Linked DNA regions of Homo sapiens: all the other regions are linked to region 3. The links come from fine-mapping of genetic effects on gene expression. A gene starts in region 3. Each other region holds a variant in brackets. All regions are shown on one strand. Distances are from middle to middle.

Region 1 (8,015 bases), 36 kb before region 3:
ATCAAAATACCAGGCAACCACTGGCTTACGCTTAGAGGGCTCTGACATTCAGGAATGTTCTGTGGATTGTTGTGTAAAATAACAAAGGACTAGGCTGAGGGCTGCCCAGGACTCTCTCCCATTCCCTGCCTGTCCAGGTGACCCTCAACCTCAGGACACAGCTCAAATCCCACCCGCACTCCCATGCAACTGCCAACCTGATGGCTCCCTCCTCCTGACCCTGGCTCCCTCACAGTCCTCACAGCACCTTTTGCCTTGGCTTGTTTTCCCTGCCTTAGCTCCAGGTGAGCACAGCCAGAACCATGCTCAGAAGCCAGCACACGAAGGCCTGCAACTGCAGACCCCTAAGAAACCTTGGAGATGCTCTCAGACAGTGCCCACCTCACTTTGCAGATGGAGTGACTCACAGCTGGGACAAAGGTCCACTCGCTCTTGCCCCTGCAGTCTACCCACAAAGCAGCCAGGAGAGCTTCTAAAAATGCAAAGCAGGTGGCGTTCTTCTGAATAAGCCCTCCCATGGCTCCCTATCTTAGTACAAAAGCTGAAATCTCATGACCTGTGAGGCCCTCCAGCTGGCTCGCAGCCACCCCTCCAAAACCGAGTGCCTGCCAGCGCATTGCCCACCCAGCTGCAGCCAGGCCCCCCACTGCTCAGCACCATCTCCTCAGAGGCCCCCCCATTCTTCCACGGGCATGTTCCCTATCCCCTTAGAGCACGCTTGGGCCTGAACTGATCTTGGGTTCTGTCGCCTGTCTACCCCACTGGAATGCAAACTCCACAGAGGCAGGGCTTTCTCTGTCCCCTGCCGCATCCACAGTGCCGGGAACAGTGCCTGGCATGGAGCAGGTGCAGTCGAATGACCGACTCCATGAAGTGAGGTGAGTCACCCACCACGCAGGGAAGAGTGGACATGGGTAAACAGGCGCTGCCTGGGCTCCAGGCACACTGACTGCATCCTGGCTGCTTGACTGATGTGGTTAATAAATTACTAGAAGGCAAGCCCTCTAGGGCACAGCAGACTGGATACTTGATTAACCCAGGGTCTGTGTTAATTCCAGGTGCCAAAATAATTTCTAGAATTTCACCTGAGACCTAGAGGTAGTTCATTTGAAAATAAACATGATTTTCCAGAAGGCTCGAGCTTTCTCAAGGAAAGCAATGCCCTGGACTCTCCTTCCACAGGAAATCAGGAAGACAGGCTTTGGAATTCCCAGTGGGGAAGCACAGTTGGAGGGGCCGGCCTCGGGCACCACAGTGCGCAACGCTGAACACAGGGCTCCCAGGCAGAGACTGGGAGGTCCCGACACCTGGACCCACAGGTGCACCCGCATCTCCCATGCTTTTACCCTTTCTCCTCCACCCCATTTATAGAAGTGATCAGAGGTGAATGAGGAAATAGTGGGGGAACTGACCCCCTGGAAAGTCTGAATTTGAGTGAAATAATGGGGAGAAGTGAACCCCTGGAAAGTCTGAATTCTGCTTCATCAAAGCCCAACACGGGCCTGTTTCCCTCTGCTGTCAACCCCAGGGAATGGGGTGTCAACGGGGCCCACAGTCATATTGTCCCAAGCACCGACAGCACCGCTGCAGGGACCCCTCTACCCCCACAAGCAGAAACGCTCGACGCAACGCCGGGAACATGTCTTTATTAAAGATGCAAGCAAGCACAGAAGGATCATGTGTAGTGCTCAGTAACATCCATACAGTACTAAAAATAGAAAAATATAAATGAAATTTCACAGAAAGCAGCCTCCCTCACAGAAACACAGGCAAGGTGCTGCCGAGCCCACCATGCGATGCCACGTGCCACCTGCCTGGCCACGCTTCTCCCCATTACAAACAAAAACACAAGCTTCTCTCTACACCCGTTTCAAATACAGCACCAAGAACGGAGACCCCTTCCACAGCAGCGACCCTCCTGACCACCACTTTGGGTGCTTTCCAGCCACATAAATGACAGACAACCCCGGTCCCCACGGGGTTGGCTGGCTACTGGCCCCCGACTCTCCATCGCTTCAGCGAATGTGGGTGAGAAAATTAGGCAGTGAAGCAATAAAGACCTCACCTTTACTCCCTCAGATACACGGAGGGATGAGGTGGACAGACACGCAGGCGGCCGTGCCAACCTGATCCGAGTGAAACAGGGCTACACTCGCAAAATGGTCCTCCCACGGCTGAGCGCCTCAGGTGCACAGAACAAACTGAATGATAAAGACCCGGGGATTTTAGAAATTTACTATTAAGCATCTGCTTGCCAGCATTAGTAGGCTATCACTTCAGGAAACAAAGTAAGGCTGTGGAATTCAGCTCAAATTCCGAGCGCAACTCGGTCCTTTGGTGGCCGACTCTCCACCCACTGCATGCAAATGCTCCTGACTGCATTAGACTCCCACCTGCCAGCCTCACCAGGCAGACTTCCCTCAGCACATGCTCCGCGGGCTCCTCTGCATTGGGCCTTTGGAGCCGCCCGCTGGAAGTCTCTGGCAGAAGGACGTCCATTCTGAAGACCTAGTGAACAATTTCTGCTCATTTCAGGAAGGTTCTGAAGAAGTGAACTCCGTCAGAATAAACAAGTGTCCAGATTCCCCCCAACAGACCCAACTCATCCTCTGTTCTCACCACTATCTCAGAACCAAGTGAGAACAGAATGGCTGTGCCTTAGATAATAAAACTACAAAAATAAAGAGTTAACCCTGAGATCTTTCTACCATTCGGGTGTGGCTCGCTCCTGATTCCCCTTGGAAATGAACTTTTATTTGGTTTACTGACATTTATGTAGATTTCCAGTGAAAAGCTCTATAAAATACAATAATACGGGGTTGAAAAGGCAGACATTCTAGTTGCATATATTACAGGCTTTATCCTTACGGTCCAGGCCATTGGAACTGCAATGTGGAGACTGTTTGTAATCAGACATGGAGAGGCTGCACGTTCTAAAGGCGAGACAGCTGCTTTCGGTTGGGAATCATCACACTCCCTCCGCTCACGCCGCTCTTCCCTTCCCCCGCTGTTTCACACGCTGCTTCCAGAGTTTGTCCAGCAAGGAATAAATGAATGCATACAGGACTTTTGGCTAGTAGACTGTCTGGGTATTGTGAGCATGCAGGTTGTTGTTTCTGTTATTATAAATAAAAGTCAAACGTGAGGTCACACTTTCCCATCTTCTGTTTATACACCAAGTCAAACTTCTCATTCATGGAGACGGTGAAGATGTCCTTCCACAGCCCAACTCTTCCTGAAACGCAAACAAGAGAACTGCTGGGGCCACTTGCTGTCCGGCCAGCTACTGAACTAAAGGAAGCCTTGGAAATGGATCTGGAACATTCCAGATCTATTCCTGGATCCCTTTGAACTTGGCCTATGGGGGCAGGAAGGGCCGTCTGAGCTACAGACCAGGTGGTCCCCTAACATTTGTGAAACTACTGGATGCGGCAGAACATGACCTGAACCAGCTTCCCTCTGAGGCTGTGGCACAGTGAGCCACAACCACCTCCTGGTGCCATTCCACACCCCCCGCTGGGGCCCACCAGGGAGACTCTACTCCTGTTCAGTGCTGGGTCCCCAGCACCTAGAACGGCACCTGGCACGTGGCAGGTGTTTAATAAACATCCCAGGAGCGAGTATGATCTGCCGCGGGAGTGCACTGCTCTGGGCATCACAGGCAGCCCTGGCCCTTCCCACGCCATTATCCACTCACAGCTCAACAGTGCCACCAAGGCGTCATTGGCTTCGGGAGAATTTGAAAAGGAAAAAAAAATCATTCAAAGTGCAGAAAATTTTACACTAAGTAGGAAGCCCTCCTGACTGGGCCAAAGATGCAGATTTCAAGAAGCCTGCCCTGGCAAACCCTGGGGAGGAATTTAAAGTGAATCAAATAGTCGCAGCATTAGCTAGCTTTACAGACTAGATGCAAAACATGCACTGCAGTGAGAATTCCCTGAGTCAACAATAAAATGAGTCTGGGCACAGCCCCCAGCTGCTCTAGCCCAGGCTTAGTCAGAAACCCAGACCTCTTCCTGGCAGCCACAAGGGAGGGCTGAGCTGTGGG[A/C]TAAACTGCAGGCACCGGTCTACGCTGGTTTATGAAGGCTTTGGAAAAACGAAAGACAGCTCAACATGACAAGAGAAGTTGTTGCTCCCATTGTCTTTGTTAATATAAAATCTTAGGTTGGTCTAGTCCAATAGCAACGGTGACCGTGAAGATGTCTGGGGCGGGGATTCCAAACTTCCCAGTTATGGGAGCTGTGAGCACATCACCCGAGTACTGCCTCCCTGCTTTTGAAGAACTGCTCGTTTAGAATTCTTTCCATTGTCAGCTCTCTGAGATCAGAGCTCTGTCTCCAGCAAATGTCCTTCACTAGCTCCGTTATTAACAGCGGTCCTTGTCCAGGCAGGACCTCAGGTTTTTCAAACTGCAACCCTGCAAATGCTGAGCTAAAATACCCAACGTAACACGGACTTTCTCTTTGGTAACAAAAAATTATCAGTGTTGGAGAGAAAAACAAGAAAAATTATTCTTGTAACCCTTTAATGATACCTAAGGGGCAAAATTAGAAGCTGCTAGAGCAACCAAACTATTTTTCCATGATTATTTTTCTCAGCTGAGACAGCTGAGAGCTCGTCAGAGGAGTCACCCACCTGGTTTAGGATTTGGAATCAAGACAATTTATGCTGTGACATGAATCAAATCTAAGCAATGCAGCTGGCTACTCGGCCCTGCATTCTCACCAACTCAAGAAGATCTTCCGAGCAAAGACGCAATGTGCTAAAAGAAAACAAATCAAAGAACTGAAATAAAGCAAAACCAAGGTAAACCATGATAAAGCAAACCCAAGGGAAGGAGCATATGGGCACACAGTATGTTCTCGACGCTGCTTCACCACACACACACACACACACACACACACGTGAACCAAAAGGGGTATTTTGGAGAAGGTCACATCCAAGGATAACAAAACACAGCAAAAGCAAAACTAAAAAAGAGCAAATAAATGTTAAATAACAAATATTTATGAAAATGCAGCCAGGAAAGAAGTCGAGAGGGACTGTGGTTCAGTTCACTTCCTCCTGAGGAGTCCACTGCTCTGCCTTTATAAGAGACGGCACTTTGCACTTGACCTTCAAACCGCCCTTAGCCGTGATCAGCCCCTTTTCAGAGAAGAACAAAAAGCCGCAGAAGCTGAAGGCCTGACCTATGTTGCGTTCCCAGAGGGCAGCAGAGCTGAGCTGGAGCCCAGCGCGTCTCTCATCCGCCCCAGGCATCTCCCACTCCATCTTGTGGGGCTGCTGCTGAACAGAGCCATCCACGTTTCTGGGCCCTCCCTGCAAACATTCTCAACCCAGGAAGTGCCCAACACACCAAGTGTCCATCAGGTTCATACTTACCAACAGGGGGCCTCCTATGGCCAAGGCCAGCACCCTGGGATTCAGGGGTTTTAGAGCCTGGGCTCTCCATCATCAAAGCCAAATGCCACACACCCTTAAGGACAGGGGGAGCAACCCAGGTGGATCTGGGGAGGATTCCTGTCAGGAACACTGTCCCCATCTCCAGCTGCCTCATGCCCACTGTCACTTGCCGCCAAGAGCAGGAACTGGCCTCCCTCTGTGCAGCGGCTTAGCTTGGTACTGTCTGCTTAAGTTCACCACCCCGAAGTGGGGCTAGGCCTCACCTGTGCTGCCTGCACCCAGAAGATGCTCAGTCAGCGTCCACTCAGTGAAGGAAGAAAAACGGTGTCTCCTAACTTCCCGCCCACTTCATTTAACTCTCCCACAAGTCAGTTAGAGACTGAGAAACCCATCAGCATGCTTTGCGCTTTGACATGTCATAGCACCAAACCCAGTCCCTGGATCTGCTCTGTGGGGCGTTTGATTTCAGGCCATCTGAGTAGACTCCCTGCTGAGAAACATCCCGCCCACAAAGCCTGAAATGCACTTTTTCAAGTCAAAACACTGTTTGCTTGGAGGCAATGCAAACACCAGCGGGCAGGGTACTCCGTCACTCCATGAGCACTGTGCCATCCATGGGCACCAGCTAACAGAGCACAGGCCATGGGCCAGCTACAGACTGCTGTAAAAGGAGAGCAGGGAGGGCAACAGGGACCGGACTCGGCTCCCTAAGCAGGCAGAGAAAGCAGCCTGGCTGGGGTGGGGAGTGCCTGGGCGGGAGGCAGGGTGGGGCACGTACCCCGGCCCACGGGCAGGGCCTCAGCGTTGCAGCACTGGTCCACCAGCTGGTGGCAGTGCTCCGTCAGGGCTTCCAGCTGGGCCTTGTCACAGGACACCCCCAGGAATCTGGCCAGCTGCTCCACCATCGTCACCAGGTCCTGGAAGACAAGTGCAGAGAGCAGAGCAGCCCATCAGAGGCGGGGCCTTTTACTGGACACGACCCCAGGCTGGGCACACGCTGAGGACTTTTTACACACGGCCTTCCTTACTTAATGCTCACAAGGCTGACATCAGCCTTGTCCAGAAATAACACTAAGAGGTTAAGAAATCGCCCAAGTGTGCTCAGCTCTCACGTGGAGATCTTGAATTCAAACCCTGGTCCTCCAGGGAATTGGGTTGCAGACATGAGGTCTTAATAGAGGTGTGGTTAAGTTTTAACAGGAGCAAGAAGTAAAAAACATATTTCAGAACATGGTTCTTGTGAGGAGCAAGACCTAATGGGCTCCTCTTTCCCTTCCTGCTGCCTGTCAGCTGGCGTCTGGGCTGGCCCTTGGGAGCGCAGGGAGGCCCCTCTGGTCTCCAGATGGCCCTGCACTGGGCAGGGAGCCCGCTTCATCACAGGCAAGATTCCGTCATGCCTGCCATACCCTGCCCCATTATTTTACCACGCCTGACAGCGGAATGTCACTGATGTGGCTAACCGTCTTGAGGGGGCCATTCCCCAGCCCCCCACCCCTGCCACTTTCTCCCCAAGAGATGAGGCTCCTCGTCTTCTCAATCACAGCCCTGAGCTGTCACCTAGAGGTGCCTTGGTCCCATTAGGAAGATGCTGGAGGCTGTTTCCTCTCTGGAAGGTTTGTAAAGCAAATTCCCGCATTAAAGCCTCTAAAAAGTCCTACAGTGAAAAGATGATTTAATTTCTTTATTGCAGCACTTCGGAAACCTTAAAAGACAATGTTCTCTGACCGCTGGTGTGGGAGTCAGCTGGTGTGGGCGCCAGCTCCTCCCTGGGTCCCCACAGTGCGCTGACTCCTGCAGCAGCGGTTGCAGGTCTGATTCTGGCCTCGCACTGCCTTCCACAGGCAGGGGTGTGGTGCATCCCGGGCGCAGGGCTTGACTCAAGAGTCAGAGGAACAGTTATTAGAGAATGAGCCAAGGAATACAGAGCTCCCTTTCCCTTGCCCTGCCACCAAGAACTCCATTTCAAAGAAAAAGGGTAGCAATGGAGAAAGAGTGAAGAAACCTGGCTCTCAGAAGAGATGCCGCAAGAAGGACACAGCTGGCTTAAAGTCAGCCTGCTGGAGCGTTCAGCAGAATCCTCGTGGGGCAGCTCACTGCGGCGTGACGTCCATCTCAGAGGAAGGGGCGTTTCTGCCAGGCTACATCCAGCAACATGTCACAGGACACTTGCTGGTTATGAAACCCAGCAGGGATCAGGCAGAACGCCCAGGTCAGCTGGCAGGAACGGCCCACTTCACCTCTCTGAGCCACACATTCCCCATCTGGAACTAGCGACAGGGCCGCAGCAAGAGGCCGCACACCACGGCACGGAGCCAGCGTGTTGGGGTCGTGCCTCCACATGGGCAGGTACTAGCTGGCCACACGGTTGCAGTCAGGGCACCCCGTGACTGGTGAGAACACCCTGCAAGATGACTGAGGATGAAGTGGGAATATACCCGGGGTGCCTGGCACAGTGCCCGGCTCGTGGGAAAGGGCCACTGTAATTGCGGTGCAGTGGAGCGCAGGCAGTGAGCGCTCTGGCAGGAAGCATTCCCTCTCAACCCCAGGGTGAGAACACATGGACCCACACCACAGTCCTGGAGACAACCATGCTCACTCGGGGCTAGTTTTCT
Region 2 (8,015 bases), 46 kb before region 3:
CCGCTTGTCTGCTCGAGGAGACAGCCGGTGAGGACGGGAGCTGGCCTGCTTTGCCCAGGCTGTAACCTCAGCCTCCGCCCATACCCACAGTAAGCATCCATTCCATTGATATTCGCTAAATGAGTGAATTATTACTAAGACAGAGGGCCGAGTGGAAGCGCCATAAATCACGTGAGTGAATGTAATTGTTGTCGCTGACCCTATGGAGCACTTCCCTTGCCAGGCACTCACCCATCCTAGGTATGTACTTTACATGTAATTGTCATCTTCATTTGTCTTCACAACAACCCTGTGAGGTGGGTGCTGTGGTTACTCCCATTTTACAGATAGGTAACTGAGGCACACAGAGCATTTTGTTCAAGGACACACTGCCAGTCAGGGGTAGGAGCAGAATGAGAACCTATGGAGCTTGCTCTTAGGCACCCTGCCACACTGCTCACTGTGGGAGAGAAGCAGCCAGGCAGACGTGTGCAGCTTGGAATTCCTTGCACACATGGCTGCGGCAGGTCAATTAGGTGCCCTGGTGTGTGCTGCAAAGATGGATACTATGCGGTCCCTGCTGGGCACTCTGACTACTTCACTGGGCAGCTAGTTTTCCTGTTCACCAAGAGAATTCTTTCCCATGGCTTGTCTCAGACCTCCCGCACTCACTACTTCCTCACCGGACTCAATGACCATGGGTCTTATCCCATTGAGAAAATGTAATGCATAAGAATGGAATGCACTCCTTCACAATCACTTTGGCATTCATCGCCTCTTTTCCTCTTGCCCCAAAAGAGGGTCTCTTACAGAGGCCAGTCCCTCTAACTGTGTCCTGGATCCCTCCCCATTTGCCTTCTTTATTATAGGCAGTGCTCTAAGTGTGGTCTGGGAATCCCTGGGGATCCTGAGACCCTTTCAGACTGTCCATGGGGCCAAAAAATACTTTCATAACACTTAAGACTTTACTTGCTTTTTCATTGTTTTTCTCTCATAAGTATATGGGGGGATTTTCCAGAAGCTACATGATGTGTGATATTGCAACAAATTGAATGCAAAAGAAGGTAAGAGATCCAGCGGTCTTGTACTAAGCCAGATGTTAAAGAGATCTGCAAAAATAGAAAACTGCCCCTCTTTTCACTTTTTTGGAAAGTGTAATTTTTCATTAGAGAACGTTAACATCTAATGGGTTTATTATTTTTAATGAGTTAATAAATTTTTTATCAATTGTATTTTCTAACATGGTAAATATTGATAGATATAAACATAAATAAAAGTTTTTTGGGATCCTCAATACTTTTTAAGAGTGTGAATGGATCCTGAGGCCAAAAAGTTTGGTCCTGAGATCAAAAGGGCTTCAGTTATTCCCTCTCTCATGATAGCCAAGAGTCTCATTCTTTCTCTTTCTCTCTTTCCCTCCTTCTTGGAACATGCTCTAGTATCTCACATCTTTAAAAAAAAAATAGATGATCTTCTGGTTTCCACCCCATTTCTCTGCTCCTCTTTAACCTGCTTCTCAGTAGAGCTGTCTATACATGCTGTCTTTCAGTTACCAAATTTCACAGAAGCGTGACTCTCATTGCCTGGTAACTGGCATTCTCACAAATACTTCTTCTCTACTTGGCCGTACATTACTTGACCTCTCAGTAGCATTCAGCCCAGTTGATCACTCCTTTCTGCCTGAAATACTTCAGGCTTCTCTAATACCACACCAACTACTCAATTCTTGGGCCCCACTGGTGACTTCCCTCCTCTGTGTGGCCTTTGGATGTTAGGGCCCCTCTGACCCTGTCGTAGGTCCTGCTGTTATGCTTCTCACCAGCCTTGACCCCTCTACTGGAATGTACTGGAGATCACTCAGACTTAAGCCATCCATATTGCCCTTGATCCACTCACCTCCCTCACTCACCTATTACTTTTTTTTTTTTTTCGAGACGGAGTCTTGCTCTGTCGCCTAGACTGGAGTGCAATGGTGCGATCTCGACTCAGTGCAACCTCCACCTCCCAGGTTTCAGCAATTCTCTGCCTCAGCCTCCCGAGTAGCTGGGATTACAGGCGTGAGCCACCATGCCCAGCTGATTTTTGTATTTTTAGTAGAGACAGGGTTTCACCATGTTGGCCAGGCTCGTCTTGAACTCCTGACCTCGTGATCCGCCTGCCTCGGCCTCCCAAAGTGCTGGGATTACAGGTGTGAGCTACTGTGCCTGCCCGCACTCACCTATTCCAAAGCAATGCTCAAACTAGGAAGCCTTGTTGTTACCCTCAATGATCACTACCTCATACCCCATATCTAGTGCTTCAGCAAGTCTTGTCGATTCTAACACCAGAATACGTACATGGTAGCAATCTCATCCATTCTCTCCAAGTTCCCCTGCACTACCTTGCCTTAAAAGCCTTCTTATGCTAAAAATAAAAATCTTTAAAACAGCATGCAGGGCCACTGGGACCATCCTACAACCTCAACCTCATTCTCCCCCCAGGATCGCTATGGTCACAAAGCCCAGAAGCCAGCTTGAATGGGGCTCCTGCTGGCCAGAATAATGAAGGACAGTAAAAGAAATAGGAGTCATGAGTCCAGGCCCAGGAGCGATGGACAGATAGAATAAATGCAGGACAAGGGAGGGCACGTGCTTGCAGTAGCAGGCCTAGGGACAAATGGTCATGCAGGAGGACTAGAGCTGAAAAGCCATCATGTTGCAACCACTGAGTGAAGATTGATTCAGGCAAGGATCATTCACGGGTGCTTCATCTCGGGGTTCTTTGGATGGGGAGCAGGATATTTGCATTGTTTTAAAGGATAGTCCCACAGATCACTTATTACTTACAGGAGAAAAAGTAGTCATAATACAAAAGAAAAATGGACAATGCTTGGATACCATAATAAAAATTAACACTACCAACAAGGAGCATGGACATTGTGTGGCTTCAGATGTAATGTGAAGGACAACCTCCGTTGAAAAGGGCAACTGCTGTAGTATTCTAATCTGGAATGCATCACCTAATCCTATCATAAGAAGACATTAGGAAAAAAAAAATAAAGATAATTCCATTTTTTTAATGGTTTTTGGTGTTTTGTTTGTTTGTTTGTGACAGAGTCTCGCTGTGTTGCCCAGGCTGGAGTGTAGTGATGCGATCTCAGCTCACTGCACCCTCCACCTCCTGGGTTCAAGCGATGCTGCTGCCTCAGCCTCCCAAGTAGCTGGGATTACGGGCACACACCACCAAGCCCAGCTAATTTTTGTATTTTTAGTAGAGATAGGGTTTCACCATGTTGGCCAGGCTGGTCTTGAACTCCTGATCTCAAGTGATCTGCCTGCCTCAGCCTTCCAAAGTGCTGGGATTACAGGCATGAGCCACTGTGCCCAGCCTGTAACTTACTTTCAAATGCTTCTGAAAAAATTATGTATTGATAGATAGCAAATAATAAAGCAATTGGGGCAAAACGTGCACAGTTTAAGTGGATCTGAGAAAGGGAGTTGTATTAGATAGGGCTGCGGTAACAAATTTCCACAGACTGGGCAGCTTGGACAACAGAAATGTATTGTCTCACAGTCCTGGAAGCATCTTCAATCCAAAAGAACCTGAGGGATAATTTTAGGTGATAAACCCTGGCCAATGTCTGGCTGTGTGGGCAAACATGGAATTCTAGTAGGGAATACCTTAATGTCTTTTGCACTGGCCTGCTCTCAACAGTGAAGCAGGCCGGGCACGGTGGCTCATGCCTGTAATCCCAGCACTTTGGGAGGCTGTGGCAGGAGGATCACCTGAGGTCAGGAGTTCGAGACCAGCCTGGCCAACATAGTGAAATCCCATCTCTACTAAAACTACAATGA[TTAG/T]TCAGGCGTGGTAGTGGGCACCTGTAATCTCAGCTACTTGGGAGGCTGAGGCAGGAGAATTGCTTGAACCAGGGAGGCGGAGGTTGCAGTGAGCCAAGATTGCGCCACTGCACTCCAGCCTGGACAACAGAGCGAGACTCCGTCTCAAAAAAAAAAAAAAAAAAAAAACAACAGTAACAGTGACGCACACATAAGTGGTGTACAACTGGATCAATGTAGCCAAGAACCCAGAAACTCAAAACCCTTGCTGATTTCCTTGAACCCAAGGATAATTTTTCTATATGTTGAAATGACTAATTAGATGAGTCCATCATGAAGTTTTGTCACGTGATTCTCTCTTTTTTCTCCTTAAAGATCATCTTCAATCCAGAGGGTTTTCCTTGTTCCAGGAAACGTCTCACCTCCATGTGCAGATTTAATTTTTACAGAAACTGAAATTTCCCTCATTTATTATCTAGATGAGCCCCTAAAATCTATTCAATAAGGTTTGATCTTTGATGGAACAGACCAGAGTTGTATAATGTGACAGTGGCCCCAAGGAACAGTTTGTAGGAGGAGATTGTTGTCTTCTCTGAAAAAAACTTCCCAGAAGACATTGATGGTTCCCTTAGGTGCCCTGCAGTGGGTCCACTTCCAACAGGCTGAAGCCTGGATTTGGTGGGTGAGGGTCCTACCTTTTCCTAGATACCATTCAGCATCACTGAAGCCAGTAAACTCACCTCCTGAGGAACCGTTACCATCTGTACTATTTACACCCATGGCATGAGTCTGCTGCTCAAGACCTTTGATGAGAATCTTGAAAAGGAAACCATGAATTGCTGGAGAAAATATCTTTACACTTATATGCAACAGATGGTCCATTCCCTCAGTATTCAAGAAGAAACTCTGGGATCATGGAGACCTGGGTGACAATCACCCTCTGCCCACCCTGCGGGTTTTGGGGGCTTGGAGCTGGTTTTCACCACAATTCTGTACACCTAAGAGACTGGGCCGTAAGATCGAGCCTGTAATTATCTCACAGGCATCAGTGATGATGTTACGAATGCAGATTATGCCTTCATGTGGAGAAAGAAACAGTAGGGGCTGATTAGCCACGAAGAAGTTAAGTACTGGTTTCCACCATGTCTATTAATAAAGAAGGGAAGAAGAGCAAGTACGTGGCAGGGATGCGTAGCGTGTCCACATGGAAGCGGAGAGCCTCTCCCTCTCAGAAATCTGCTTCCCTGACTGCTGTCCTTTTGGTAGTCTCATAAAATGGAGACAAGATTCTCTTCAGCTGTCCTGAGGAGGAAAAAAAAATATGACATAAAAATAAATGAGGTATAAGTAGCTCTTTTGGAAAAGCTACTGTGGTTATTTTTTCTTTATTAAAATAGCTGCTTTATCTCTCGAATATTTACCTTGACAGATGACGCAGCTGCTCGTTTTAGTTCAATCAGCCAGAAACTAAATTGCACATGTTAAACGTTGTCACTACAAATAATTGATGATTACTTGTAAACAGGGGGCCATTTGAGGATCTATCTGAGGATCCTCCATGGAGAGCGGCTCTCCACAGGCTCAGCAAAGCACCTAGGCATGTTCTCTTTCCCCTTTAAGAGACTGATATACTATTAAGCTCTTAATTTCCTTTAATAGCTACTGGTTGTTTCCTTTCACGGAAAGAAGAATAAAATCCACTTATGTTGCTCCTGAACAAGATTCCGTGGTGTCGAACACTGATATTTAGAATTTTAATGAACCCTGGCTGGGCGCAGTGGCTCACGCCTGTAATCCCAGTGCTTTGGAGACCGAGGCGGAGGGATCACCTGAGGTCAGGAGTTCGAGATCAGCCTGGTCCACATGGTGAAACCCTGTCTCTACTAAAGATACAAAAATTAGCCAGGCGTGGTGGCAGGTGCCTGTAATCCCGGCTACTCAGGAGGCGGAGGCAGGAGAATCGCTTGAACCCTGGGAGGTGGAGGTTAAGGAGAGCTGAGATCGCACTACTGCACTCCAGCCTGGGTGACAGAGTGGGACTCTGTCTCAAAAAATAATTTTAATGAAACCTGCCTCCCAAACATTATATTGCAGCAATCTTAGAAGAATGCACCACCTCTGGAATAGAGAAGCAGTTGGGAAAGAAGTGTTTCATGTTTCCTACACCTGGGCAACAGGCAGGCCCCTGACAACCACAAGTAATTCTTTCCTGAGAGCCGGGATCTTGCAACAGCTTGTCATTAGTGCTGTTTAGCATTTAATTTGCCTTTAGTTAGGTAACAAGCATTTATGGATTACCTGTTAGGAACGAATGCACAGTATGGGAACAGAGGGATGAATGAGGCACAGACTCTGCTCACAGCCTACTTGGACTAGAAATATCTACTCAGGAAAGAAAACTTGAAAGCAGTTAGCAAATGCAAACCGATATACCACTACAGGGAATCATCACTCTTTCCGAATTCAAGGCTCTAACTGCTGGCACACTTCTAAGGAAAAAAGATATGCGTTTCTGCATCCCGTCTCATGATGGGAGTGAAGATATGCCAGTCACGCCTTCTGTGGGCTAAGGAACGGTCCGGCCTTCTCTTCCTCTGCAGAGTCCGGGCGTGATGGAGACGCAGGATGGAGGCAGCCATCACCCATTGAAAAACAGCCTGTCTGCCAGATCTGGTGACCCCCCCCTAAGGTCCTTGGTAAAAACTGAGGCCTAGTTGTGTCCAGGATGGCAGTGAGCTGGGATTCATTCATGGCAGCCCCCAGGAGATTGCGTTTTTAAACCAGCCCAAGGCATGTGGTGGACATGGATTGGCAGCACCTACAGATAACGGGGAAGGCTTTCCAAGGGGCCAAACGGTCCATAGCAGTTAGGGAAGCGAACGTTAGAAGTGCAGGTCAAGGTCTCAGAGTGAGCAGTGTGGCTGGGCCAGAGAGGGCCTTCCAAGTGCATAGCCAGTGGAGGCAGCTGGACACAGCTGACATGACAAGGCAAGGCTGGATCCGTCAGACTCTGGGAATGCTCCCAGCCATCAGGCTTCACGGAGCACTGCTTCTGTGCTAAGTTCCTGATGCCAAGGAAAGTGAGAGAGACATGGCCCTGGCCTCAAGAAGCTTTCCCGGCAGATGGCCGTGTATCCGGGATATGTTAAGGGAGGTGTAATATTAACCAAAAGTGGAGCTCTGAGCTCCTACCCTTGGCAGAGGGCTTCTTGGAGTAGATCATGCCTGGACTGTGCCCAAGGGCGTCTTGGAGTAGATCGTGCCTGGATCGCACTGAATCAGTGTAAGCTGGGTCAAGTCGGGGAATGGCAACCCAGGCGGAGGGAAGTGCATACTTGGGACACGGAGGGCACAGACAAGCCGTGGTTCTCTGGCAGTGAGATGGGTGCCAGGCCACAAACTGGATCTGAGAGATTATTTCCCCATCTGGGAACTGCATGTACTATGGATTGTAAAGGGTCAACCTGAGAGACAGAAACAGGGAAAAGGCCCTCAACCATTCACTTCAGTGTCTGGGGATGCGTGGACTGGGGAAGAGTCTCTGGCTGGCTCCAATGCGGTCTCTGCTTCTGCAGAGGGGGCCTTGCTCACACAGTCTTCAGACTTGCATTCCCAGCTGGTGCCCAGCACCACGAATATATGGGAAGATAACAACTCTAAAGAGGGATAAAATGTATTTTTTGGTCGGTTTTTATTTTTCAAACACATTTAGCATTCTCTGGTTTTTAAAAAATGCTTTTAATAGAGCACAGACTCCTTTCCTCAGTGGTGAGGAGACAGATTTAAGGGCTGTAGCTCAGACAGTCAGTGCCAGCTAGCATTCAGGGATCCAAGTGTGAGAATCAAATTGTCGTTTGATGTGTGGATTTGGCAAAGGCTCAGCACGCCTTGGAGACGGTGCCCGTGGCCCACACTGGGTGGCAGGTGCTTCTGCCTTGGGCTCTCTGCTCCTGCCGGCCGGGCCTGTCATCGGCTGAAAAGCCGGCATCTCCCACACCCATCAGCTCCTCTCTGGAGCTGAGTCGCTGGACACTGTGACCACACTTAAGAGGCACAGCATGCTCCTGCTGGGTGGAATTTTAGGACACCTGGTCTGTGACCTCTTCATTATGACATAAAAGGGACCTTCCCTGCAGTCCCACAAATAGGAACAGAGCAGCACTGGAGCTGGCGCCCGACTCCCGGCAGGGAAGGGTTCTGTCCTCATTTGGGCGTATTCTG
Region 3 (8,015 bases):
GGCTCCGCATGCTCCCTCATCTCAGAACAAACTGGTAACCCAGGAAGCGCTGGCAGGTGCTAGCTCCCACCCCCACGCCTCTCTTACCCCCTCCTGTGGGTGGTTTCTCTCCAGGATCTACACTCGGTGCTGCCACTACCCCAGCCCTTTGTCCTCCCTAGGCCCTCATTTTCACATCTATAAAAAGGAAATAATCACAAGAGCACAGGGCCGTCCTGAGAATCAAAGTGGGTGGAGGGCAAAACAGCATCTGTAATGGGTAATCCACCCAACCTGTCTCCTCCTCCATGCAGTCTCCCGAGATCCTCCTCTTCAGAACCCTCATTACCAGGCCATTTACCTGACCCTGAGAACAGCCACCCTGGCTTGTCAGTTAACTTTTCAGTGTTAGGATTCTGGCTTCCCCCATGTCACTGCAAGTGCCACAAGGTCACCATCACCTCATGCCCAGCCCTTCTGAAACCTGTCTCTCCCAGGCACAGTGACATACACACCAAGAAAACTAGGACATCCATCTAGCCTGGGACCTGCACACCATGAGTCTCCCCTCAGCTTCAGCTCCCCTCAGCTTCAACCCCTGAGTTGTCTGAAAATGTAAGACTTAAATGAATCAATCTGGTCAAATCCTCTCATTTTTAATGAGCAAACTGAGGTTCAAAGAAACCAGGTGGCTCACCCACGCCCAGGCCCAGAAGCTTCCGTCTGCATCAGTGAGAATGCGCACACACTTCAGGACTGGCCGGAACCAGGGGCAAAATAAACTCAGGGCAGTGGGTGCTCTGGCTGAGCCAGGGACCGTATTTCAAAGCCCAAGCTCCATGACTTTGGGGCTGTGCCCCCTCGGGGACGAGCACCCAATTCAAATCAACCTGTTGACAAAACCAGTGGCAGTGATTGCATCAAACCAACACACAGGGACAAAATATTTTCACAGACACAATCGGATTTAATACAACCACCGTCCCAGGACCAACTACGCTGTAAGAATGAATAGGAACAAAGTCGGTCATCAACAGAAAGGTCCTTCTCAGAAGACACAATGGGCTCCTACTGTCTGGATCACGGTTTTACCTGGCGCTGTGCAGCAGAACTTTCAGCTGTGATGGGAACACTCCATATCTGCGCCACCCAATACGGCAGCCGCTAGCCCCATGTGGCTACTGAGCACCTGAAACATGGTGATGCTACTGAGGAACAGAATTTCCACTTTTATTTCATTTTAATTCATTAGATGTAAGCAGCCGCCTGTGGGCAGAGGGTCCTACGCTGGAGAGCACAGTCCTAACCCGCCATCTAAGCTAGAATGTCGCAAGCACAAAAAGAATCCGAGCAAGCAGCACGGGGTTGTGGGAAAAAATACCGGACAGGAAGCGAAGGCAGGATCTAATTATCATTGCCTTAGCCACCAGAAAGCCCCCACCACCCCTTTGAACCCCAGTTTCTCCATCAGCAGAGGGTGGGAAGGGGCTGACAAGGGACCAGGCCCTTCCGGCTCTGACCACCTGCAAGTTCATTAGGATCTCCTACACCTGGGCACTGGAAATCCAAGGAGGCCCGTGGGTTCCCTGCCATGGCAGGTGAATGGGGCACCTGTTAGTCCTGGCTACTTGCCCCAACCCCAGCACCAACCATGTCTCCCCCATCAGACTGAGAGCTCACTAAGGACAGGCACCAGATGGGGCCCTCTCGGCTTCCCCAGCCCCTAGCAAAGCATCTGGGCACAACAGGTGTTCAGGGCTTAAAAGTCAGCATTAACCACGAGCCTTTCCAGCGTGTGTCTGGACGTGGGCTAAGCGTTCTCACCCGCCATTTTGCTCATCCTCACAGCCACACATCAGCGGGCCGAGGTGGTCTCTTCTCCCTCCGCAGAGACCACAGCTCAATGGGATTCTATGATCTGCCCAGGGTCACTCTGCTGGTAAGCCGCAAAACTGCATTCAAACCCAGGACTTCCAACTCCGAAGCCAGGTTCTTAATGTGTAAGCACTGATGCCTGCTACAAATCCATCCCCAGTAGCAGATGGAAGGAAAGGAAAAGAAAATATGAACTGGGCTACCAGAAGTCCACTTGGAGGGGCCTCAGAGAAGTGACACAAACCTCAAAATCCCTAAGTGGCTGAGACTTCCAGCATTTTAAAGCCTCCAAGAAAGAAGGCTAGGTCCCCCTCCTTCTTGGGCCCTCACGGTTTTCCAAGGGCAACGGAGCACCCATAAGGCAGGGGAGAGGCTGGCCGTGGACCGGGAGACCTAGCTAGACCTGACCTCTGTCCCTCAGCAACTGTGTGACTCCGAACAATTTGTGCCTTCTCTGAGCCTCTGAAAAAAAGGTGTAAGAGTCCCTCACAGATTAACAGCGATAGAGCACTTGGCCCGCAGGACTTAATGAGTGGCCACAGAAGCCAACGACACGCTTAGCCATTCCTAAAGCATTTTAGGTCCCACCCCATGCGGCGACTGGCATGTGCTCAAGATAGCAGCCCATCGAACGCTCTGTTCTCCAACCAACACCCTCCACTGAGAGTCCCTACTCCAATCTTCCTCAGAAGAATGTCAGAGACCTGCCCTCAGGTGTCTGGAACTCCATACAGCTACAACAGCCAAGCCTACAGCTTTTCCTGAAACTGCCCGACTGCTGGTCCGGCGTGACCTTAGAGCCAGACACCTTCTAAACCACGCTGTGATTGCCTCAAATACAGTGGCAACAAGGAAATCCCAGGGCATGTTTACAGAACAGGAAAGCTGCTACCTCCTTTCCCTAAAAACCTCAGATGGGGTACTATACAATCTCCTACCTCAGGTCTGGAAACAGACCAGCCTAGCTTTAATTCCCAGGTCAGCCACTCACCAGCTGAGTGACCTTGGACCAGCCTCTTCCCCTCTCTGAGCCTCTGTGCCTAGACTGTAAAGTGGGAATGACCACCACTAGCTCACACAGCTGTTATTGTGAAAGTGACGTCAGCTAATGCTGGGAAATGTGAATGCCCCAGGTCCTGCCTCGGTGATGGAGGCAGCCCTGAAACAAGAGAATGTACAAGCAAGGCACTCCAGGCGGGGACTGGTCCCATCCCCCACCCGGAGCCCAGGCTGGAAAGGAGGGACGTTACGTTTCCACGCTGAAAGCCCTGACGCCCATGTTATCTCCCTTCCCAGGTGAACACCAGGACTTTGCACTCATCAAAGGTTGGGCAGGATTCAGGAACAGAGAGGTTGAGTGACCTGTCCAAGGTCACACAGCCAGCCAGGTAAAGGGAGAAGCAGGGATGGGTGGCGGCCCTGGGCCCATCCTCCTGCAGCGCCGGCCAAATAGGCTCCATCTCCACGGAAGGGGCCGCTCCCGAAGGTCTCTGACCTTGGTTTCCCCAGATGAGAACCAAGCCCCTTCCCACCCCCACCCCACCCCACCCCGCCCCGCAGGGATCCGAGCATCGGGAGAGCGGTGGGCACGGCAGGGGCGGAGGCCAAGGGCGACCACCCGGCCCAGCAGAAGCCCCGGGCGCGGGCGCGGCGTCTACGCGGCCGCGCTGCAGGGCTGGGGCATGGCGTGGCGGGCGCGGTCGGCGCGGGGCTCACCGGACTTGGGGTAGGTGACGATCCACACGTCGCTGGGCCGCACCGGGAAGTTGGCGATCTCCTCCATCTTCCCGCGGCAGAAGGGCGGCAGCCGCACGCCATGGAACTCGAAGTACTTGCTCTCGAACTCCCCCGGGGTGCTGGGGGTCTCGGCCTCGCTCTCCGCCATGCCGCCGCCGTCGCCGTCGCCGCCGCCGCCTCCCGGCTCGCAGCCCGCACGCGCCCGCGCCCGCGCCCGCGCCCGCGCCCCGCACACGCTCGCGCCCCACCGGCGCGCGGCGGCAGCTCCGCAGGCGTGACGTCATGGCGCCGCCGACGCGCGGCGGAGGCTCCGCGGGTATGACGTCATGGCGCCGCCCGGCACGCGGCCGCGGCGCTGCACGGGCGTGACGTCATGGCGCCGCGGAGCCGCGTCCTCCCCGCCCCGCCCCCGGCCGGGGTCACCCACCCGCTGCCGGGGCTGACAGAGACCCTGGCCCGCGGTCTGCAGCCTCCTCAGTCGTGCGTGCGTTCATTCCGCTCATAGCTTCTGTCACTCAGCAAGCGCTCAACACAGACGCATGAGATACCCTGGCTGGAAGGCCCTGAAAGGTAGTCGTCCATTCAACACGTGCTTAGCGCGCTGCTGATCTGTGCCAGGCACTGGGCCAGGGCCCCGACACGCGTCAGGGTAGAAGCAAGCAGAAGCCTGGCCCTGTTGGAGCTTACATTGGTAAATAACCAAGATAATTTCAGGTAAATATTAGGTCCTATTAAAAATATGCGTCTTCGCCAGGCGCGGTGGATCACGCCTGTAATCTCAGCACTTTGAGAGGTCGAGCACGGGCGGATCTCCTGAGGTCAAGAGTTCGAGACCAACCTGGGTAAATGGTGAAACCGCATCTCTACAAACATACAAAAAAAAAAATTAGCAGTGAGCTGTGAGCTTGCACCACTGCACTCCAGTCTGGGCAACAGGACGAGATCTTCTAACAACAACAAAAAAAAAGTATGGGCCACCTAGTCCAGCCAAAAAAACAAAGTGCTTTTTTTTTGCTTTTTTTTTTTTTTTTTTTTTTTTGAGATGGAGTCTCGCTGTGTCGCCCAGGCTGGAGTGCAGGGGCGCGATCTCAGCTCACTGCAAGCTCCACCTCCCGGGTTTACGCCATTCTCCTGGCTCAGCCTCCCGAGTAGCTGGGACTACAGGCACATGCCACCATGCCTGGCTAATTTTTTGTATTTTTTGTTTGTTTGTTTTAGTAGAGACGGGGTTTCATCGTGTTAGCCAGGATGGTCTCAATCTCCTGACCTCGTGATCTGCCCACCTTGGCCTCCCAAAGTGCTGGGATTACAGGTGTGAACCACCTCGCCCAGCCAAAAAGTGCTTCTTAATATCCCATGAGTAGGGGAGGGGAGTGTTGGATTGCAAATTCCAGGACCCCAGATCTATGGAGAAAAATTACAAAAATATACATTTAGTAAGGCACTTCTTGTGCAAACTATAATTTGAGAGCAACCGAGTTCTAGAGATCTCAGTGCAACCCCTTGCCAGTCATGCACTCAACAGACATATATGAAGCACCTACTAACATGCCTGGGGAAGCACAAAGATGAAAACAACACAGCCTGCTCTCATTCTCTGCAGCCGAGCATCATCAGCTGTGTAAAGGAAAAGAATGATTCCTACCTCTAAGTAGTGTAGCCAGGAAGATGGAAGGAGTTTACACCAACAAGAATCTGGAGCAGAGTGGCTGGACGGGACCTATTCCTACTCTCTCCTTCTTACTGTAGAGTGAGACACGTGCATTCTGACACCAAAGACATACACATGGGCTGAGAAGCGCAGGCCATGTGTACATAGCAGACAGAGAGAGGAAACAGCAATTAATCCTGACTTGGGAAGCTTGTAGATGTCTTTCCAAAAAAGAAAGAGGACATTCCGAGCACCCAGCCTTTATTCAGAATAATTAGGCCAATGGCAAAAGGGCATCTAGCCAAAAGCTAGAGGGATTGAGTGAATGAATGAATATCCTGATGTTTCAGGTGAGGGTTCTCACTGTGGGAGAAGGAAAATGTAAGTGGGGAATGCGAGAAGGCAGGGAAGAACTCTATGGTATTGGATTGGAATTGGAGGTATTGACATGAGTTTATGATATTTTAAAATTCCTATTTCTTATATTTGCTGGAAAAGCCTTTAGGCAGTGATATCTCAATAATACTAGGCATACCCACTGCCCAGATCTTTGCTAAATACTTCCCTCACCAAATGAACCTGGGGTTTCTTGGAGAAAAAGCCAACTCCAGGGCAAGGAAAGTACAAGATGAGCCTAAAATGTCTTGTTGAGTCTTGAACTCCTGCAAGTTCAAAAATGTTGGGAATAGGTCAGAAGGACACAGGGTATAACATGAAAGTATTATCATAGGTCAAATCGGAAACAATTTGAGCATGTTAGACAAAAATGGGAAAAAACCCACGTACCCAACAGTAGAATAGATAAATTGCGATATATTCATACAATGGAATACAGTAATTTTTTTAAAAAAGGAATGTAACTGAGAAGAATGTCACAGTCAAAATGATGAACAAACTAAGTCAAGCACAAAAAATGGTATGTCATATGATTCTATTTATATACAGTCAAAACCAAGCAAAACTGATCTATAGTGATAGAGGTGAGAATAGTCTTAACCTGGGGCATTGGAAAGAGGGTTGACTGGGAGCAGACTCAAGGTTACCTACCCTCCATAGTGTTGGAAACATCATAGCTTGCTCTTAGTGGCGGTTACATGAAGATATAGACATAGATAAAAGTACAGACATGGACATAGATGCAGGCCTTGCTTCACGGATACGCAACCAGGGGAGTCACACAGGGTTCTGTGCTCAGAAGGGCCCCACACTTTGGAATTTAATGGTCTGTGGTCACTATCTTGAAATTGTTGCATTTATCTTTGGGTTTGTTTTGTAAGTGAGGTCTGGTCAAAATTAGCTGGGAGTGGTGACACGCACCATAATCCCAGCTACTCAGGAGGCTGAGGCAGGAGGATTGCTTGAACCTGGGAGATGGAAGTTTCAGTGGGCTGAGATTGCACCACTGCACTCCAGCCTGGGTGACAGAAAAAGACTCCGTCTGAAAAAAAAAAGCCATAATGGACATTAATGAGATAATTTGCAATATTTGAATATAGACTCTAGATTAGATGATATTCTATTTTAAATTTCCTAAATTTGAAAACTGCACTGTGGTTATGTAAAAATGTCCATTTGCCTCAGAGGTACATGTGGAAGTATTTGGGGGTGAAGAATCATGATGTCTGCCACTTACTTTCAAATGGTTTTACAAAAATAAAACCACAATTATAACCCTAATGCAAGCACATGTATGTATACACATTGAGAGCGAGAAAGAAAATGTGGGAAAAGCCACAATTGGTGAATGTAGGTGATGATATATGTTCATTATGTAGTCATTTTCTATTTTGCTATAATGAATTACCACAAACTCAGCTCTGTAAGTCAGAAGTCTGATGCTGGTACCACTAGACCAAAAGGAAGGTGTCAGCAGGGCTAGCATTCCTTTCTGGAGGATCCAGGGGAGAACCTATTTCCTTGCTTTCTTTAGCTTCTAGAAGCCACCCACATTCTCTAGCTCATGGTCTCTTTCCATCTTCAAAATGGCAGACACAGTCTTTCTCACATCGTATCACTCTTTTTGTTTACTTGTTTATTTGAGACAAAGTTTCACTCTTGTTGCCCAGGCTGGAGTACAGTGGCACGATCTCGGATCACTGCAACCTCCGCCTCCCAGGTTCAAGCAATTCTCCTGCCTCAGCCTCCTGAGTAGCTGGGATTATAGGCATGCACTACCACGCCCGACTAATTTTGTATTTTTATTAGAGACAGGGTTTCTCCATGTTGGTGCAGCTGGTCTTGAACTCCCGACCTCAGTTGATCCACCTGCCTCGAACTCCCGAAGTGCTGGGATTACAGGCATGACCCACTGCGCTTGGCCATATCGCTCTTACATTGACTCTTCTTCTGTCTCCGTCCTCCACTTTTAAGGACCCTTGTGATTACATTGTACCCACCCAATAATCCAAGATAATCTCCCTATTTTAAGATCAGCTGATCAGCAACCTTAATTTCATCTACAACCTTAGTTTGACTTTGACATATAATATAACATATTCACAGGCTCCCAGGACTGGAATGTGGACATCTTTGGAGGACTGTTATTCTGCCTACCGCAATTGCAGTAAACTTTTCTATACATTTAACTTTTTTTCAGAATAGAAACCTAAAGAAAAACCTTTATTAACAGAAAATCCCTAGGAATTTGCAAAAAGGCTGCTAGAACTAATAAGTGAGTTTAGCAAGGTCATAGGATACAAGGCCAACAAATAAAAACAATCCTATTTATACATACTAGCAACCAACAATTGGGAATTGCAGTTTCAAAAATACC

Which allele goes with the higher level. Alleles are on the strand shown, and positions count from the first base shown. SD is a standard deviation of normalised expression in the study named. Not every link is listed here.
With allele C in place of A in region 1, the expression in testis of the gene that starts at base 3,870 in region 3 is lower (moderate effect, 0.42 SD a copy in GTEx).

What was found.
Region 1: its variant is fine-mapped to the expression of SULT4A1 in testis (GTEx, PIP 0.96).
Region 2: its variant is fine-mapped to the expression of SULT4A1 in cerebellar hemisphere (GTEx, PIP 0.96).

What each region holds. Positions count from the first base shown.
Region 1 is chr22:43,822,879-43,830,893 of GRCh38, forward strand. SULT4A1 (sulfotransferase family 4A member 1) reads right to left here. Exons shown (of 7, transcript NM_014351.4): 6 at 6,182-6,320; 7 at 1,631-3,235. The coding sequence ends at 3,123. Among named protein-coding and RNA genes, the nearest start is that of EFCAB6-DT, 14 kb to the left of the region's middle. RefSeq lists an enhancer at 5,108-5,870. The variant A/C (reference allele first, on the strand shown) is at 4,049.
Region 2 is chr22:43,812,745-43,820,759 of GRCh38, forward strand. It overlaps EFCAB6-DT (EFCAB6 divergent transcript), which reads left to right. Exons shown (of 2, transcript NR_186822.1): 1 at 1-240; 2 at 4,170-5,158. Among named protein-coding and RNA genes, the nearest start is that of EFCAB6-DT, 4.3 kb to the left of the region's middle. RefSeq lists enhancers at 167-968, 7,272-7,913. The variant TTAG/T (reference allele first, on the strand shown) is at 3,813.
Region 3 is chr22:43,858,644-43,866,658 of GRCh38, forward strand. SULT4A1 (sulfotransferase family 4A member 1) reads right to left here and starts at 3,870. Exons shown (of 7, transcript NM_014351.4): 1 at 3,571-3,870. The coding sequence starts at 3,739. RefSeq lists an enhancer at 1,686-2,185.